Homo sapiens: one gene and its partners. The protein of the gene in region 3 binds, or shares a complex with, the protein of the main gene of each other region. Each region holds a gene or a part of one and is shown on either strand. Other genes may lie near its edges.

Region 1 (5,611 bases), on a different chromosome or scaffold from region 3:
TGCTTTGCTCCCCTTCCTCCATCCCTGGCATCATCCTTCTCTGTCTTAGCCACACTCTGGCCCTGGAACCCGCCTCCTCTCTGGCTTCCCTGATGCAACCTGTGCCTCCCATAGGTGACACAGGGGAGATCAAGTCAGAAGTCCGTGAGCAGATCAATGCCAAGGTGGCTGAGTGGCGCGAGGAGGGCAAGGCGGAGATCATCCCTGGAGTGAGGACCCAGGACATGGCCGGGGCGGGTGGTGGGGTGGAGGTGGGCCGGGGAAGTGGGGACGCGGGTGGTGACTCTCACACACACCCCAATCCAAGGTGCTGTTCATCGACGAGGTCCACATGCTGGACATCGAGAGCTTCTCCTTCCTCAACCGGGCCCTGGAGAGTGACATGGCGCCTGTCCTGATCATGGCCACCAACCGTGGCATCACGCGGTGAGCCGGCTACAGGGGCCTCTGGGGAAAACAGGATGCTCTGGGCAGTGGGTGTGGTCAGAGGGTCAATGGGAGCCTGTGTTGACACCGGGTCAGGGAGGGACGCGTGACTGCAGTGTGCGCTCTTTGCTTACAAAAGGCGGGTGGGAGGCAGCTCTGCTTCCCGAGGAAGCCCAGAGACTGTGTTCTTGCTGCCTTTCTGTCTTGCTGCTCCTTTAGCCCCCAAGGCTGCAGTCTTCAAACTGCGTGCCGAGGCACCCCAGGGTGCTGCAGGAAACTCACAGGAGTGCTGTGGGATGTTTTCTAGTCTTGAGGGAAGCACAGTGACATCTGTTAGACATAACATAAACTACGATTGTTCAGTCACTTCGACCCAGCAACTCCATTAACAGAACTCTTAGCGTTGTGTTTGGCCTAAGGATGCCAGGGACAGATTCCCATGACACAGAGGGTACCGTGCTCTGCTGAAGCCTGGGAACCTCATCTCCCAGGTGTTGCCAGCACCCTGTGCACGGGGAACTCTTAATGTTGTGTTTGGCCTGAGGATGCCGGGGACAGATTCCTGTGACACAGAGGGTACTGTGCTGTGCTGAAGCCTGGGAACCTCGTCTCCCAGGTGTTGCCAGCACCCTGTGTAGCTGGGATTACGGGCACCTGCCACCATGCCCGCTGGCTGTCTTCTCCACCTCGCCACATTTTGGCCCGCAGGAAGCAGGGGGATGTGGAGGGCAGGCAGCCCCCATAGGCTGTGATCCACAGGCTGCACCCCAACCTTGCACCCCCATTCCATTGCCCGGCACTGCTTGGGCTCAGTGCTGTACCTGGTGGCAAAGAAGGCTGGGTACTGTCAGCTCCAGCCCTGCAGCCTTGGGCCCAGCTGAAACTGGGCGGTTGGGATGGGCATCACAAAAGGGAAGAAGCGGGCACCCTACAGAGGATGCTGGGCCGCTGGGCCTGGCTCTGTGTTTGGCTCTTTTAACTCCTTGGATCCGCAGAAGAAGCTCAGAAGGTAGATATCACCTCAGCCCCATTTTATAGGGCAGGACAGTGAGGCCCAGTGACTTGCCCAGGTCACAAGTCTAGAAGGTAGCAGGGCCGTAATTTGGTCTCTGGATGGCTGGACACTGGAAGAGACCCCCAGGGCTGATGGTGTTTTCACAGAAACTGCAGGTCAGGGCCTGGGGACTGCCCAGGGGCACCTCCTGTGGGAGGCAGCAGCTACGGGCAGCCCTGATTGTTCGTAGACTCTGTATCTGAGAATCTCGCTTGCTAAGATTTATTTGTAATCCCCAAATAAATATCTGCCCTGCTTTCGGCAACAAATTCAAGTCACCTGACACCCACTTTCCCAGCTGAGTGTGAACGAGGCAACACTGCCTGCTCCCTTAGCGCTCATGCTGTAAATAAGTGTCCTTGTTGTATTCTATTTAGTGCTACGTTTGTCACTTTTGTTCTTTGAGACAGGGTCTTGCTCTGTCGCCCAGGCTGGAGTGCAGAGGCACGATCATGGCACACTGCAGCCTCAGTGCCCACCACACACACACACACACACACACACACACACACACACACACCACCCCTGGGACTCAATCAGTCCTCTGGCCTCAGCCTCCTCATCAGCTGGGACCACGGGCATGCACCACTATGCCTAGCTAATTTCTGTTTTTGTTTTGAGACGGAGTCTAGCTCTGTCACCAGGCTGGAGTGCAGTGGCACGATCTCGGCTCACTGCAACCTCTGCCTTCTGGGTTCAAGCAGTTTTCCTGCCTCAGCCTCCTGAGTAGCTGGGATTATGGGCACCCGCCACCATGCCCAGCTAATTTTGGTATTTTTAGTAGAGACAGGGTTTCACCATATTGGCCAGGCTGGTCTCGAACTCCTGACCTCGTGATCTGCCCACCTCAGCCTCCCAAAGTGTTGAGATTACAGGGGTGAGTCACCGCGTCCGGCCTAATTTTTTTTTTTTTTTTGTAGAGATGGTGTTTTGCCATGTTGCCCAGGCTGGTCTCAAACTCCTGGGCTCAAGCAATCCACCCGCCTCAGCCTCCCAAAGTGTTGTCACTTTTTTTGTGCCTTTTTTTTTTAAACTTTTTGGGGCCATTTGTTGGTGATATTGCCATTTAAAGTGTCCCCTGTGCACAGTGTTGAAGTGCTGTCTAGTATCCTAAGTGCAAGGAGGCTGTGAAGCCTGACGGAGAAAATGCCATGTTACAGACGCTTCGCTGAGCCCAAGTTAGAATGCTGTTGACACGAGCTCCATGTTAGAGAATAAACAGTGATGTTACATAACAAACACATGGAAATAGAAACACACATACATGAGGCCAGGCGCGGTAGCTCACACCTGTAATCCCAGCACTTTGGGAGGCCGAGGTGGGTGGATCACGAGGTCAAGAGAATGAGACCGTCCCGGCCAACATGGTGAAACCCTGTCTGTATTAAAAATAGAAAAAACTAGCTGGGCGTGATGGCGTGCGCCTGTAGACCCAGCTACTTGGGAGGCTGAGGCAGGAGGATCGGTTGAACCCGGGAGGCGGAGGTTGCAGTGAGCCGAGATCGCGCCACTGCACTCCAGCCTCGCAACAGAGCGAGACTCCGTCTCAAAAAACAAACCAAAAAGACCAGAAACACACAAATGAAAATACGCATAGACCCAGATTATATATATATGGATTGATGAAAATACTGTAAGCCGAGGCTCGAGAGAGCCTAACCCTGTATTCCAGTAGGAGCAGTGGCTCAGGATCAGCTAATTGGAGTGTTCACGATGACTTTCTAGAACCTCACTACTGTGAATAAGGGGAACTGACTGTATCCCCTGGCACCAGCCCTGGGCTGGCCCCGCTGCAGCAGGGAACAAGACAGGTGCAGTCCCCTCCTTTGTGAAGCTTTGTGTCGAGCACGGGAGTGGGACCTTGATCCAGTAATCCTGGAGGCAGAGATCTAGCTTAAAGCAGCCCAGCTCCGCGGAAAGGTGCCCTTGGGGGACTGACGCAGCTGTGGAAGGCTGCGTCATCAGGGGTGATGTCATCATGTGACAGGAGACGCGAGCTAAAGGTTAAGTGGTGTTGGGCCCAGTGAGTGGGTGGCGATGGGAGGTGAGAGTGTTCCCAGCAAAGGGAATGAAGAGGGAACATGCCCCTGACAGCCCCCTCTTTCTGCCTCTTCCTCAGAATCCGGGGCACCAGCTACCAGAGCCCTCACGGCATCCCCATAGACCTGCTGGACCGGCTGCTTATCGTCTCCACCACCCCCTACAGCGAGAAAGACACGAAGCAGATCCTCCGCATCCGGTGCGGGCAGGACCAGGCCGTGCGCCTGAGACGCAGGGCTGGGGTCTACCCTGTTTGACAAATGCTGACACTGAGGTCCAGCGGAGTGGCATGGTGGCTGGGCCTACAGGAGAGAGGGCTGAGCGGGCACCCAGACGGTGGCCTCCGATCCGGGAGCAGGAGCCACGGTGGGAAAGGGAGGCGAGGTACCCGTGACTGGTGTTGGGGCCAGCGCCCTGGGGGTGGTCAGGAGGCCTCGGTTTTAGGTCCAGCCCAGCCCCTGTCTCCGTGGCTCTTCTAGCCTCAGCATTCTATGGTTCTAAGATGCAGGCGCCACATATTCCCAGTGGGGAAGGGCCAGAGGGTTGCTGTGGCCACTTCTGCTGCAGTCAGAGGCTGGGCCCCGGCTGAGCCACCCCTGTCCCCCACTGCTTGCAGGTGCGAGGAAGAAGATGTGGAGATGAGTGAGGACGCCTACACGGTGCTGACCCGCATCGGGCTGGAGACGTCACTGCGCTACGCCATCCAGCTCATCACAGCTGCCAGCTTGGTGTGCCGGAAACGCAAGGTCAGCCGGCCGAATTAGCCAGCAGGGCCAGATGGCGGCAGTGAGTGACACAGTACTTCAGGGGCTTCCAGGGTTCCGATTTCATCCTAGAATGTACGTTTTCAGACGCAGGGAATTTTCATCCCTCAGGTTGGCTTCTGTATCATCCAGCCTGGCCTATAGTAGGTATCAGTAAATCTCTCTTGACTTAAGTAGATGCTGTTAGGTCCACCTTACAGATAAAGAAACTGAGGAATGAAGAGGCTGGGCCCACAACAAGGAGATGGCCAGGCAGGATTTGAACCCAGGCAATCTGGCCCAGAATGCCCTCCCCTCACATGCCACACTCTGCTGCCTAGAGCATGGAGGTGGCATACGCTGGGGTCTGTGCCTTGAGCCTCACGGAGAGGGGCCCAACTGAGGACTCGCCCTCCCCCTCCAGGGTACAGAAGTGCAGGTGGATGACATCAAGCGGGTCTACTCACTCTTCCTGGACGAGTCCCGCTCCACGCAGTACATGAAGGAGTACCAGGACGCCTTCCTCTTCAACGAACTCAGTAAGAATCCCCACCCCGCACCTGCACTGCCAGAGCCAACCTCAGAGGGAGGAAGAGGGAGCTCGGCGTAGAAGGCTCAGGCCCTGCCACCTGGGCGACACTGACCATGTGGCCTTCCTTCTCCCCACAGAAGGCGAGACCATGGACACCTCCTGAGTTGGATGTCATCCCCCGACCCCACCCTGTTTTCCACCAGAGTTCTGACACTGTGACTCTGTATAAAATGGTTGGGAAGCTGCACCCACCCTGTGTATGTGTGGTTGCCCTGAGCCCACAGAAAGACACCTCCAGAGTGCGGATTGAGAAGCCTTTATTGTGGGAGGATCGGGGTGTCAGGGCTCCAGGAGTCGGGATGGACTTGGAAGGCTGCGGGGAGGGTCTTTAGAGGAAGAGGAGGCCTGAGAGTTGGGGGTGGTCACAGGTCAAGGGGTGGTCTTTGGGACCCCCACAGTCAGAGGTGCTGCGGCGGCAGGGTCCACAGCGACAGCTGAGAGCCACAGGGAAGGAGACCACGGGGTCCACACCACGCGGGCAGCCAGGGAGCCGGATGGACTCGAAGCGCACATCACGGTAGGTGCACACCACCTGAGGCAGGGGCGGCAGGACCGCCTGCAGCACGCGCATCTGGAGGCCGTGTGAGTGGGGGAATGAGCATGTGCCTGAGGCCAGCGCCTCAGCTGAGCTCCCAAGCTGACCCCACAGGTCCTGGACTCAGGAGCCCAGGAAGCCCTCTGTTCCTGCCTTCCCACACCCCATTCCCCAACCGCAGGCCAGAGAGGCAGACCACCCTTCCTCCCCCGCTGCCTCTG
Region 2 (6,980 bases), on a different chromosome or scaffold from region 3:
CCACTCTTTTCTCTACCATTACATAAACTCTACAGTGTTTCAAGACGATTCTGTTAGCACTCATCAAATATTCTTTTTCCCTTGCAAGATATTCTCCGATCATCTAATTAATAAATTTTTTTTTTTTTTGAAATGGAGTCTCACTCTGTGGCCCAGGCTGGAGTGCGATGGCAGGATCTCGGCCTACTGCAACCTCCGACTCCCGGGTTCAAGCGATTTCCTGTCTCAGCCGCCCGAGTAGCCGGGATTACAGGAGCCTAACACCACGCCCTGCTAATTTTTGTATTTTTAGTAGAGACTGGGTTTCACCAGGCTCACCAGGCTGACCAGGCTGGTCTCGAACCGCTGACCTCAGGTGATCCACCGCCCCCACCCACCTCGGCCTCCCAAAGTGCTGGGATTAGAGGCGTGAGCCACCGTGCCCCACCCACTAAAATCATTTTTAAAACGTGGTTACACAATTCCATTTTAAACACAAGTACAAAACACACCTGGAAAGTAATGTTAAATACAGACTCTCTTACACAGCTTTCAAACCCTTACCTGGGGATACCTTGGTTCCTACTCTTCTCCAATTACCCCACTTAAAACGGCACAAGGAAATCTCTGCTGCTACTCCTCTCTTAACTAGCAACCCTCTAGAACTAAAGCGCTTCTTCCAGAACAGCCATCCTTAGGTTGTTCCCACAGCAGCGATTAACTTTTTGTGCCTTGACAGTCTGATAAACCCTACGAGCCTAATAGTTTCATAAATACATAAAACACACACTAGTACAAAGGAAACCAACTGTACTGAAACAAAACACTTTAAATGTCACGTTCTATGACATTACAGGACAAACAAGACTTGGCTGCTAATACAATAACTACCCTAATTTTGAAGAAATAAGAATGCGATAACTGAAAACATCTTCCATAACTGTAATGTTGAGATATGAAAATATACTGAAAATGCTAATGTGGTGGTTTTTTTCGGGGTTTAGGGGGAGCAATTACACTGTTAATTGAAATACTAAACTTGGGAGATAGAAAAAAAAATCTTCCTCAATTTCACGCACCGTCTCAATTAATGCACTGACTCTAGATTAAGAATATCTGCTCTAAAATGTCTAGTAAAATAATGAACCCATAGGAGGTAGAGTCAACAGCTTCTCAAGGTGAGAGAGGGGTATTAAAAGTCACACGGCCGAGAGCGATGCCTCACGCCCGTTAACCCCCCACAACTTTGGGAGGCCGAGGCGGGTGGATCGCTCAAGCCCAGGAGTTCGAGACCAGCCTGGGCAACATGAAACCCCGTCTCTACCAAAAATACAAAAAAAAAAAAAAAAAAAGAAAGAAAAAGAAAAGAAAAAACAAAAACCCTAAAAAACAAAACAGAACAAAACAAAACTTAGCCGGACGTGATGGCGCGCGTCTGTGATCCCAGCTACTTGGGAGGCTCGCTTTAGCCCGGGTGGGGGGCAGAGGTGAGCCGAGATAGCGTCACTGCACTACAGCCTGGGTGACAAACATCGTCTCAAAAATACAAACAAAAAAAGTCACTCATTAACAAAATACCCCTAAAACCTCCTTAAATATTCCATAAACTTAAAATACGCAGTACTACGGTTTGAGGTTTACGGCTCTAAAAGGAATTCTAATGCAAGTCTAAAAACCCCTAGAACAAAAATCGTACGCATGTAGACATCGTATTTACGGTAACTAGCATAAATTTCCATAGCAATGAAAAGGAATGTTAAAGTGTTCCTCCTTTCTCAACAGGACTTTACTTCCTTTTTAGCTATTAGACCTCCACCTTATTATACGTTAACTGAAGCGTTGTGAAAATTTAAAGAGCTGCCTTCCACTGGGAGTCAGTCTAACCTTACCCAAAACTCATGTCAATCGAAAACCAATTAATAAAAAGAAATTCAACTTTCAAGTCATTGTTAAACACTGCAACTAATCAAACAATTACTGCATTTAAAAAATGACGTCGAGGCAATGGGACTTACAAATGCAAACGGCGTCAACACTGCATTCAGATCATTTTTATTTACTTTTTACGAGCAACTGCAAAGCGAGAGCTCACTCACATTACCATAGGATCTCGGCACTGCGCCCAAGAATAGCAGAGTGATGCCTCCAGGCAACACAAAGCGGAGGAAAACGCTCATCTCACTTTTTTTTTTCTGTCCCCACCCACCACTCTGTGGTATGCGGAGGGCCCCGGCAACCTTCTGGTCGTCGTGGAAGGGGGCGCTGCATCTGCCCGTAAGCTGTGCCTCCATACGGGACCGAGACGCCGGCGGCCATGATGGCGCCGCCATCTTGCAACGGCCATTTTACAACGCACTTCTCCCGCCCCGTGGCGCCAAACCCACCCCCATCCGCAGCTGAGTTGCCACCGAACGCAACCACCCCGGGGCTCCAGGAAGCACCGAAAAACCCGTCGTAGCTGCCCAAGCGGCCGGGCGCGCCGCAGGACCGCCCGAAACAGCCACCGCCCCTCCCCCCCCGCCGCCACATCACTTCCCCTAACCGCCGCCATGGCGCTCCCGTCGCCTCCCTACAATAGGCTGCTCTCTCCGCGCCCTCTTCCTCAGAACAATAACAAACACTTGACGAGGGTGTGCCACGCGCCAAACGCTCTCTCTCCCACTCTAACGCCTGCGCAGCACTCTCGCTTCACAAAGCGCTTTCTCACAATGACGCACCGGAATTGCCATCCGCAATGCGCTTTCCCCGCACAAAGCACTGACCGCCGCCTTCTCAGGGCGCAGCCCGCGCCGCCCCCGGCCCTCAAGCCTCAATCACCTCGAGCCCGCCTCTATCTCCTGCGCCGTTAGGTGCCTTTTTCCCAAAGGCGCACACTCACCCTCCTGGAATTTAGGCTTCGGGTCCTGCTTCGGCGCCATTTATAAGTGATTCGCCGCCTCCTCCTTCTCCCACCACCCCCGACTACCGCCCCCTACTCTCTACCCCACCCAACTCCGCGTCAGACGCGCCGTCAGGCACTGCCAGCTCTACATCCTGGGCCGGATTTGCCAGCGCCCGCAGACCTCACAGCACCGCGACCCGCGCAGCCGCTGCTCCAGCCAACGACAGCCCGCCGCGCACGCGCCCCTGCGCCCGCGCCGCCCCAGGGCACGCCGGGACTGGTAGTTCGGAGTCGGTGGAGGCGCCCCCCCCCCCCCCCCGGGTGGGGGAGGGGCCGGCTACCCTACCCCACCCCACCCCCGCTTCTCTCTCCATGCCCCCGGCTGCTGCGGGTTGGTAAAGCGGGGATTTGATTTCGTGGGAGGTTAAGGCGGAGCTGGCGATGGGGGAGAGTGGGGGTGGTGAGCCACCAGTGATAATAGAATGGGAAAGGCCCAGTTGCGACGTCCCTTGGGCAAATAAGCCCCCGTTGATGTTGAAGTAGTCGGAGAGAATAGGGCTGGCTCGGAAACCTACATTCAATAGCATTCCGCTAGTTTTTGCATAGAAAGGCTTTAGGATCAGCAAGAGGGTGGGAACTGGGGTCCGCTTCTGGAAGCTTCGTTGTTTAGCAACCCCACTGCGGAGCCTATTTGGTGGGATTGATAGCCATTTGTTGGCTCCTAGGTCTACCTCCTCTTCTCCAGCCCAGCCTTGCGGAAATGAGGATGATGACGTGGGAAACACTAGTCACGCTTTAGCTTTTTGAGATAATGGAGCTCTGCTTTCTGAAAAAGGCTAGTGTGAATATGTCAACGTCTGTATTCCGTACCTGCCCTGTTTGTGCTTCTTGTCACTCTAAACAAACGGATTTCTTCAATATTATACCTTTTTTTTTTTTTCTGAGATGGAGTGTCGCTCCGTTGCCCAGACTGGAGTGCAGTGGCGCGATCTCTGCTTACTGCAGCCTTCGCCTCCCAGGTTCAATCGATTCTCCTGCCTCAGCCTCCGGAGTAGCTGGGATTACAGGCATGTGCCACCACGCCCAGCTAATTTTTGTATTTTTAGTAGATACTGGGTTTCACCATGTTGGCCAGGCTGGTCTGGAACTCCTGACCTCGTGATCCGCCCGGTTTGGCCTTCCAAAGTTCTGGGATTACAGGCGTGAGCCACCGTGCCTGGCCTAAACAAACGGATTTATGTCGTTCCCTGTTCAAAAACAACTTTGTTGGCTAAGCTGCAAAATAGCACCATTTCCGTCAGTTTATTGTGAGAATTACATATACGGGCTTAGCGCGGTACCCAACAATGAATAAGTGCTCAATGAACTTTAGACGATAAATCTCAAAGTCCTTAGCCTGGTATTTAAATCCTTCCACAAACAGCCCTTAGCCTACCTGCATCCCCTATGTAAACCTTTATCCTCCTACGCAAACCTTTGTCTCCATGACTTTTCTTTTTTTTTTTTTTCTTTCTGAGACGGAGTTTCCCTCTTATTAACCAGGCTGTAGTGCAAAGGCGCGATCTCAGCTCACTGCAACCTCTGCCTCCCAGGTTCAAGCGATTCTCCTGCCTCAGCCTCCCGAGTAGCTGGGATTACAGGCATGTGACACCACACCGGGCTAATTTTTGTGTTTTTGTAGAGATGGGGTTTCTTCATGTTAGTCAGGCTGGTCTTGAACTCCCGACCTTAGGTGACCCGCTGGCCTCGGCCTCCCAGAGTGCTGGGATTACAGGCGTGAGCCACTGCGCCCAGCCTGTCTCCATGGCTTTTCTAAGCCCTCCCCTGCCCGGGTTCCACACCCCACCAATTCCGGGCCCCTCTCCATTTATCTGACTTCCATTTCTCCTTCAGTCTTTTTAACACAACCCCTTCTCTGACAACAGAAACCCACAAAAACCTTCCTTATTCCAGTTGAATATACACCATCTTGTCACGACTACTTCTCGCAAGCTTGTCCAACCTGTCTTATTTTGTTGTTGTTTTGTTTTGTTTTGTTTAGGCTTTTAGCACCCTGAAGCCATGGTTTTTAGTTTCAGTCTCTAGTGATAAGTGGAAAAGGGGGATGAGGAAGGGGCTTTACTGGCCCAACCAGAAACAGAAACTAAGAACCCATGACTGTATTCACTCCCTTGGACACCATTGCTAAATTGTAAAAAGGGACAAGGGCTTCTTTGGACCCCACCCCACCAAAACTGTCCTGTACACTTTTAAATTTTTTATTGAATATAAAATACGTACTTTTTTTAAATTATTTTTTTGAGACAGTCTCGCTCCGTAGCCAGGCTGGAGTGCAGTGGCACAGTCTCAGCTCACTGCAACCTCTGCCTCTTGGGTTCAAGCGATTCCCCTGCCTCAGCCTCCTGAGTTGCTGGGACTCGGTGTGCCATCACGCCCAGCTACTTTTTTGTATCTTAGTGGAGATGGGGTTTCACCATGTTGGCCAGGATGGTCTCGATCTCCTGACCTTATGATCCTCCTGCCTTGGCCTACCAAAGTGCTGGGATTACAGGCATGAGCCACTGCGCCCAGCCAATTTTTTGTTGTTGTTGTTGTTATGAGACCAAGTCTCACTCTGTCACCCAGGCTAGAGTGCAGTGGTGCAGTCTCAGCTCACTGCAGCCTCCACCTCCTAGATTGAAGCGATTCTTCTGCCTCAGCCTCCCAAGTAGCTGGGTTTACAGGCGCATACCACTATGGCCGGCTAATTTTTGTATATTTAGTAGGGATGGGGTTTCACCATGTTGGCCAGGCTGTTCTCGAACTCCTGACCTCAGGTGATCCACCCGCCTCGGCCTCTCAAAGTGCTGGGATTACAGACGTGAGCCACTGCGCCCAGCCTGCACATACTTTTTTAATCCAAACGTTTAAAAATACAAAAATGAAAATAGTGGGCCGGGCGCGGTGGCTCACGCCTGTAATCCCAGCACTTTGGGAAGCCAAGGCAGGCGGATCACGAGGTCAGGAGATCAAGACCATCCTGGCTAACACGGTGAAACTCCATCTCTACTAAAAATATAAAAAATTAGCTGGGCGTGGTGGTGGGCGCCTGTAGTCCCAGCTACTCAGGAGGCTGAGGCAGGAGCATGGCATGAACCCAAGAGGCGGAGCTTGCAGTAAGCCGAGATTACGCCACTGCACTCCAGCCTGGGCGACAGAGTGAGGCTCCATCTCAAAAAAAAAAAAAAAAAGAAAATAGTGAAAGTCTCTTTCCCACCTCCACCCCTCATCTGCCCAGTTCCCCCACTGTTATGAGTTGTTTGGGAATCCATGAGTTTTTTTATCCTAGAACCCTCTTTGTGTTATTTCTTCTTTTGTATTGAAGTTAACTTATTTGCCTTTATGTGTTAATTACACAGGTAATATTCAAATATTTGGGCTCATGATGCAACAATTGAGAAATATAAAATACAGGGCAAAACTTAAGGAACATGTTTATTCCCCGCTCCCCCCATTTACCTTCCCACCATTTGGCGTGTGCATTTTTCTCCATTTTTTTTTTTTAACCATAAATGGTCTGTACATATTGTTCAGTTGCATTCTTTTTTTTTTTTTTTTTTGAGACGGAGTCTCGCTCTTTCGCCAGGCTGGAGTGCAGTGGTGAGATCTCGGCTCACTGCAACCTCCGCCTCCCGGATTCCAGCGATTCTCCTGCCTCAGCCTCCTAAGTAGCTGGGATTACAGACGCCCGCCACCATGCCCGGCTAAGTTTTGTATTTTTAGTAGAGACAGGGTTTCACCAAGTTGGCCAGGATGGTCTCGATCTCTTGACCTTGTGATCCGCCCGCCTCAACCTCCCAAAGTGCTGGGATTACAGGCGTGAGCCACCACGCCCGGCCCAGTTGTATTCTTTTTTAACATAATAATATATCTTGGAGATTGTTCAAATTACATACAGGCCTATCTCACCTTTTTTTTTTTTTTTTTTTTGAAACAGCGTCTTGTTCTGTCTCCCAGGCTGGAGCACAGTGGCATGATCATGGCTCACTGCAGCTTGCAGCTCCTGGGTTCAAGTGATCCTCCTGCCTCAGCCTCCCCAGTAGCTGGGACTACAGGTGGATGCCACCACACCCAACTAATA
Region 3 (6,835 bases):
AAGAGTTGGAGACCAGCCTGGGGAACATAGTGGGACCTCGTCTCTACAAAAACATAAATATTTAAATTAAAAAAAAAAAAAAAGTTCAGCCTGGGCAACATGGCAAAACCCCATCCCTACCAAAAAATACAAAAATTAGCCAGGGGTGATGGCATGTGCCTGTAGTCCCGGCTACTCAGGAGGCTGAGGCCGGAGGATCACTTGAGCCCAGGAGGCAGAGGTTGCAGTGAACCACGATCGCACTACTGCACTCCAGCCTGGGTGACAGTGAGACCCTGTCTGCAAAAAAAAAAAAAAAAAAAAAAAAAAGTCAAACATAATAAAGTTACTACATAACCCAGCAATTTCACTCCTTGAATAAAAAACTCAAGAGAATTAAAAACATTGTCCACAACCTTGTACACGAATGTGCACATCATCAGCATTATTCATAATGGCCAAAAAGTGGAAACAACCCAATTGTCTATCAAGTGATGGATAAATAAAACTTGGTATATTCATACAACAGATTATTATTCAGCTAAAAAAGGAATTAAGTATTGATACATGCTACATAAGAATGAACCTTAAAAAGTGTTATGTCAAGTGATTAAAAAAAACAAAAAAAAGTCCAGAAGAGCACGTATCATTCCATTTGTATGAAATATCCAGAATAGGCAAATCTACAGAGACAAGAGAGTTGGCTGGGTATGGTGGCTCACACTTGTAATCCCAGCACTTTTGGAGGCCAGGACTGGTGCATTACTTCAAGACCAGCCTGGACAAAACCTCATCTCTACTAAAAATACAAAAATTAGCCAGGCCACTCGTGGCGCATGGCTGTAATCCCAGCTACTTGGGAGGCTAAGGCACGATAATCGCTTGAACCTGGGAGGCGGAGGTTGCAGTGAGCCAAGATCTAACTACTACACTCCAGCCTGTGTGACAGTGAGACTCTGTCTCAAATTAATTAATTAATTAATAGAAAGTAGATGAGTGCTTGCTTGGGGGTGGTGAGGAGGGGACAACATGGACTGACAGTTAAGGAGTAAGGGGTTTTTCTTAGAATAAAATGTTCTAAAATTAGATTGTGGTGATGGTTGCACAACTGTGAATATACTAAAAACCATTATATTGTACATTTTAAGTAGGTTAATTTTATAGTATGTGAATTATATCTCAATAAAGCTGTTTAAAAAAAGAAATACAGCTGGCCTGGTGGCTCACACCTGTAATCCCAGTAGGTTGGGCGGATCGCTCGAACGCAGGAGTTCGAGACCAGCCTAGGAAACATGATGAAACCCCCATCTCTACAAAAAAATAAAAAAAATTAGCTGGGCATGGTGGTGTGCACCTGTAGTCCCAGCTACTCAAGAGGCTGAGGTGGAGGATCATTTGAGCCTGAGATATGGAGGTTGCAGTGAGCCAAGATCACACCACTGCCCTCCAGCCTGGGCCACAGAGTGCAATCTTGTCTCAAAAAAAAAAAAAAAAAAATAGGCCTGGCAGTGGCTCACGCCTGTAATCCCAGCACTTTGGGAGGCCGAGGCGGACAGATCATGAGGTCAGGAGATTGAGACCATCGTGGCCAACATGGTGAAACCCCGTCTCTACTAAAAATACAAAATTAGCCAGGCATGGCCAGGCGCAGTGGCTCACACCTGTAATCCCAGCACTCTGGCAGGCCGAGGTGGGGGGATCACCTGAGGTCAGGAGTTCGAGACCAGCCTGGCCAACATGGCGAAACTCTGTCTCTACTAAAAAATACAAAAATTAGCTGGGCGTGTCCGCACCACTGCACTCCAGCCTGGGCAACAGAAGGAGACTCAGTCTCAAAAAAAGAAGAAAAAGAAAAGAAAGTCTACTTACAGCTTAATATGATTAACTATAGAAATCTACCGATGTGAAAGAGTATCTAACAATTTCTAAGACCCAGAAAAGCTGACATCCTAGATACCTTACCAATTTTGATCGCCACTTCTCATGACAGAAGATGCTAAACATAGCTTCTCTCGGATGGACCATGGCTCTGTGGGGCCAGTGCTTAGCAGCTTGTGTTCTGGGAAAGGGAGAAAAAAAAAAAAGCCTTGGAAACAACCACTGAGACTGTAGTGCTAAGCTCCAAAATCCCCAAAAAGAGGACTAAAAGCCTAATACAAAACATCCCAACTTGTTAGGACAAAGTGAGCTACTATAACCAAATCTTGATTTTCACCTCTCCAAGTGAAATATCACCAGTGACCGGGGTACCTATTCGTTGCATGTGAATTATTAACATTTTATTTCTTAAAACGCCATGGCTTGAAGCTCCGCTTTATTAAGAAACAGGGAATGTCAGATTAGGCAGTTCTCCCTAAAAGCCCAGTTTTAAGAATACTGGACTTTATTCCAGTTTGAACTTATTCAGGGCTTATTTCCCAGGAACCCGAGCGGCCAGCCCCTCCTACTACCCCGCCTCCCTCTTAGCATAAACTTGTTTACTTCTCTCAGATCCTCTACTCCAAATGTCGGGGGTAAAAGAGCTTTTCAGTCCAAAAAAAGAAAAATGGCTGAAATCCCCGAGATGCAATTTCCTGAGTGGCAAGAAAAGCTCATGGTTAAAAGACCCCACTTCCACTGCCTCACAAACGTCAGACAAAAAAATGAATGGCTCTTTGAGGTGCCGGTTACTCCGTCTGGCTCATAACATCTTTTCGTCTGCACGCCCAAGTTTCTAGAGTGCTTTTACGGTTAACCCGCAGAGTTCCTAACACACTAGGATTCACTAAGCTGCTTCTCTCACACCTCCGCTCTCTCCCTGAGAAACAAGACCCCAGATTTCTGGGCCCCCAAACGTTGGTCTTCACGATGCTGTAGAGCGCAGGTCTCTGAAAACCCTGGGCTCTCAAGCAACCCACTTCTCCCACTCCCTAAGCGTGTAACAAAAATATGGTGCCTAGCCTCGGATCTACAAAGGCCTTTCACGCAAAACCTGCTCAGATACTCACTGCCCGTTCCCGTCGCCATCTTGGCCCCGAAGTCTCCAACCCTGAGGAGAGACGGTCTGGAAGGGCCGAAACCCTGGAATTCTGGGAAATAGTGTACCGGCGTTGGTTCGCGGTGCCTCCTGGGAAATGTCGTTTTTCCCCTTAAGACAAAGCAAGCACCCTAAACCAGTTACCCTGTGCACTCCTGTTAAGATTGTTGCTAAGGAAGGACAGGAGTTGGCTGCTGAAGCCTCAAGATTTCCTTTAGGCTCTTAGGTAAGAAATGTCTAAGGTTCAAGGAAAAAGGTTAAGTTGGAAGAATCCCAGGCAAAATAAGTGCGAATCCACGACAGTTGGTAACCCGGACCCACATTAGAACTCAGAGGTCAAGCAGAAGCGAACGACTGGAATTCCAGTCAGGCCCGCCCCCTTTCCTTACGCGGATTGGTAGCTGCAGGCTTCCCTATCTGATTGGCCGAACGAACGCAGCGCGTAATTTAAAATATTGTATCTGTAACAAAGCTGCACCTCGTGGGCGGAGTTGTGCTCTGCGGCTGCGAAAGTCCAGCTTCGGCGACTAGGTGTGAGTAAGCCAGTATCCCAGGAGGAGCAAGTGGCACGTCTTCGGGTGAGTGTGCGGCTGTGCTGGAGCCCGGGTTACCAGCTCTTGCCCGCGCGGAATAGGCTTTAAGAAATCGGAGCTGCAGCCATCTGTTTTTCTCTTAATGCTGCATCTCTGTTCTCACGGTGGTCCTTGGGGTGAGGTTAGAGAAGGAGCCGAGGGATCCTGACACCACCTCCACAGCACCGGCGGGCGAGGTGCCCTACTTTAGGCGTAGCCTTCTGCTTTTGGAGCCAGATGTCTGTGGACTTCTGTTCGCGTTCAGAAATGCCGCCTCAAACTTCTCTCAATTGTTCATTAAGTGAACTTCTCTCATTCCCTTCCCCTTTGCCGATAATTGGAGGGGAAAAGAAGTAGGAAGCGGGACACGGTGTCCTGGGGCAAGGGACTTATTACCTAAAATTCGCGGCCCCTTCTGTCCCTAAAGGTTCTTCTCCCTGCCCACTTTTTGGTCTCTTTTTAGACCTAGGCTGCCCCTGCCGTCATGTCGCAAGGGATCCTTTCTCCGCCAGCGGGCTTGCTGTCCGATGACGATGTCGTAGTTTCTCCCATGTTTGAGTCCACAGCTGCAGATTTGGGGTCTGTGGTACGCAAGAACCTGCTATCAGACTGCTCTGTCGTCTCTACCTCCCTAGAGGACAAGCAGCAGGTAAAGGAACTGGGGAGTGGCTGGGGCGGAAAGTGATATCCTCAGGCCAATAATTGTCCATACAGGGTAGTATGAGGTCAAAGACTAGCAATCCTAAAGGTCTGAGATCAATTCAAAATTAAGGGCATTTAGGACAAAATGGCTATGAAAAGAAAAAAAGAAAAAAAAATTAAGGGCATGACAAGTAAAAAAAAAATTGAGTTGTGTGTCCAGAAGAACTATAATTTGCATTGCATTAATGAAATAGCCTCAAATGCATGCTCTTAGTTAATCTTTCAGGGAATAATAGTTATCTCTCTTTGCCTTGAGGCCCAGTTGTGCTAAATAATTTGCACAAGGTCATATAGGCATTATGTAAGTGGAATGTATGTTCAGGTTTTAATAGTATCACCATAGCTTCAATTTGTTGTAGGTTTCCTGCTAGGCCAGGGTTTCTCAGTTACAGCATTATTGACATTTGGGGCTAGACAGTTCTTGTAGGGATCTGTCCTGTACATTTCAAGATGTTTAATAGCATTCTTGGCATTTACCCACTAGATGTCAGTAGTGCCTTCCCATTTGTGACAATCAAAAAATGTCTTCAGGCACTTCAGGCATTGCTAAATGGCCCTTGGAGTGGAAATGACCCTGGTTGAGAAACACTGTACTAGGTCCTATGCTAAACATTAACATACATTGTCAGATTTTGTGCTCTTATAGAGTTTCTCTTAGAGACTTATAAAGTTCCATGAGAGCATGGTCCTTGATGATGTCTCTCACTATGGACTATCAGAGCTTCTCGGTTCCTAGGCCATAGTAGACACTCTAAATATCTGGGTTTTTTTTGTTTTTTGGGTTTTTTTGTTTTCGAGATGGAGTCTCGCTCTGTCCCCCAGGCTGGTGTGCAGTGGCACAATCTCTGCTCACTGCAACCTCCGCCTCCCGGGTTCAAGCAGTTCTCCCTGCCTCAGCCTCCTGAGTAGCTGGAATTACAGGCACCTACCACCAAGCCCAGCTAATTTTTGTATTTTTAGTAGAGATGGGGTTTTGCTGTGTTGGCCAGACTGGTCTGGAACTCCTGACCTCAGGTGATCCACCCTCTTTGGCCTCCCAAAGTGCCGGGATTATAGGCGTGAGCCCCTGCACCCAGCCTCTAAGTATCTGTTGAATGAATGACATAGGTGCTATTATTAACCCCATTCTGCAGATGAGGAAACTGAGGCCAAGAATTTCAAGAACTCATAATTCAAGGTCTCATAGTTACTAAGTCATGGAATTGGGACTCAAATTCAAGTGTTTGCCTCTGCTTTGCTTTAATATCACATACTAATTTTCATACCAGTCAATAAATTCGAACTCAGATCATCGGTGTGGCAAGCCACATTTGCAGGATAATGACGAGACAGGGAAGGGTGACAAAGTAGTAAAAATGTCCATGTGGGTTGGAATGATTGTGGAACCAAAGAGTAGCTGCACAGAGACATTTGAGGTGAAATGGGGTAGTGTTATCATAGTTCCTAGAAACTACTGTTTGCCCATTTGCTCAGAGGTAACTGCTGAAATTAATCTGTGGTTCTGGGCTGGGATTCTGCCACAGGTTCCATCTGAGGACAGTATGGAGAAGGTGAAAGTATACTTGAGGGTTAGGCCCTTGTTACCTTCAGAGTTGGAACGACAGGAAGATCAGGTAAGTGTCTGAGAAGGGAGGATTCAAGGTGAAATGATGCAGTACAAAAGATTCCCAGGAATGCCTTCTGTGACAACTGTATTTTCTCCCTTCTCAGGGTTGTGTCCGTATTGAGAATGTGGAGACCCTTGTTCTACAAGCACCCAAGGACTCTTTTGCCCTGAAGAGCAATGAACGGGGAATTGGCCAAGCCACACACAGGTTCACCTTTTCCCAGGTATGGAGGGTACTGGTTTGTGAACAAAAGACCAACATGTAAGGGCAACTTTATTCCCTCTTTAGAGGGAAAGCTTCTCTTCCTGACTGTGAGTTCCTTGTATATGCACACCTACAATTTTGAGGGCCCTAGTTATGTGTTAGTCAATGTGTCAAGTAACATATGTATATCAGTTCTGAAAAATTCTATTGTTATTATCATTATTTCCTTATTTTCCTCACAAGGATAGTGTGGCTCAATGAATGTAATATTGCTGAAGCCATGTAGCTAGTCACTAGTAGAGTTAGGACCTGAGTCTAGATCCATGTATCTCCAAAGCCCATACTTGTGGGCCATTATATTGCCCCATTGTGTGTGCAGCATCAGGCCTAGGGCATAGCATTCCTTAAGTGTTTGTTGATTTGGTGGAAAGATGGACTAGCAGAGAGTGCTTGAGTCCTCAGTGTTTAGGGAACAGCCAGCAGCATTGCAGGAAGAAGCTGCTTGAGTGGTCTCCAGAGCCAACCACTCAGGAAGGAATATATCTGCTGGCTCTGCACAGGAGGCAAGTGGGAGATGAAGGAGAGGCCTCTAAAAAACTGGGTCTCTCTCTAGATCTTTGGGCCAGAAGTGGGACAGGCATCCTTCTTCAACCTAACTGTGAAGGAGATGGTAAAGGATGTACTCAAAGGGCAGAACTGGCTCATCTATACATATGGAGTCACTAACTCAGGGAAAACCCACACGATTCAAGGTG

The links.
Region 1: BRD8 (region 3) and RUVBL2 share a complex: the UniProt entries of both Homo sapiens proteins name them as parts of the nuA4-related complex.
Region 2: BRD8 (region 3) and MORF4L1 share a complex: the UniProt entries of both Homo sapiens proteins name them as parts of the nuA4 histone acetyltransferase complex.

Annotation. Positions count from the first base shown.
Region 1 is NC_000019.10:49,010,885-49,016,495, forward strand, and holds the end of RUVBL2 (ruvB-like 2), read left to right. Parts: intron 1-114; coding exon 115-209; intron 210-307; coding exon 308-426; intron 427-3,599; coding exon 3,600-3,719; intron 3,720-4,136; coding exon 4,137-4,266; intron 4,267-4,687; coding exon 4,688-4,802; intron 4,803-4,932; coding exon 4,933-4,958; 3' UTR 4,959-5,086; downstream 5,087-5,611. Other genes in the region: LHB (lutropin subunit beta), read right to left, coding at 5,184-5,426. UniProt on the Homo sapiens protein: Possesses single-stranded DNA-stimulated ATPase and ATP-dependent DNA helicase (5' to 3') activity; hexamerization is thought to be critical for ATP hydrolysis and adjacent subunits in the ring-like structure contribute to the ATPase activity.
Region 2 is NC_000015.10:78,868,935-78,875,914, reverse strand, and holds the start of MORF4L1 (mortality factor 4-like protein 1), read right to left. Parts: upstream 3,026-6,980; 5' UTR 2,898-3,025; coding exon 2,858-2,897; exon of another isoform or gene 2,697-2,857; intron 1-2,696. UniProt on the Homo sapiens protein: Component of the NuA4 histone acetyltransferase (HAT) complex which is involved in transcriptional activation of select genes principally by acetylation of nucleosomal histones H4 and H2A.
Region 3 is NC_000005.10:138,175,630-138,182,464, forward strand, and holds the start of BRD8 (bromodomain-containing protein 8), read right to left. Parts: upstream 3,002-6,835; 5' UTR 2,986-3,001; coding exon 2,967-2,985; intron 2,039-2,966; coding exon 1,942-2,038; coding exon of another isoform or gene 1,937-1,941; intron 1-1,936. Other genes in the region: kinesin-like protein KIF20A, read left to right, coding at 4,052-4,216, 5,793-5,882, 5,980-6,099, 6,694-6,832. UniProt on the Homo sapiens protein: May act as a coactivator during transcriptional activation by hormone-activated nuclear receptors (NR). Isoform 2 stimulates transcriptional activation by AR/DHTR, ESR1/NR3A1, RXRA/NR2B1 and THRB/ERBA2.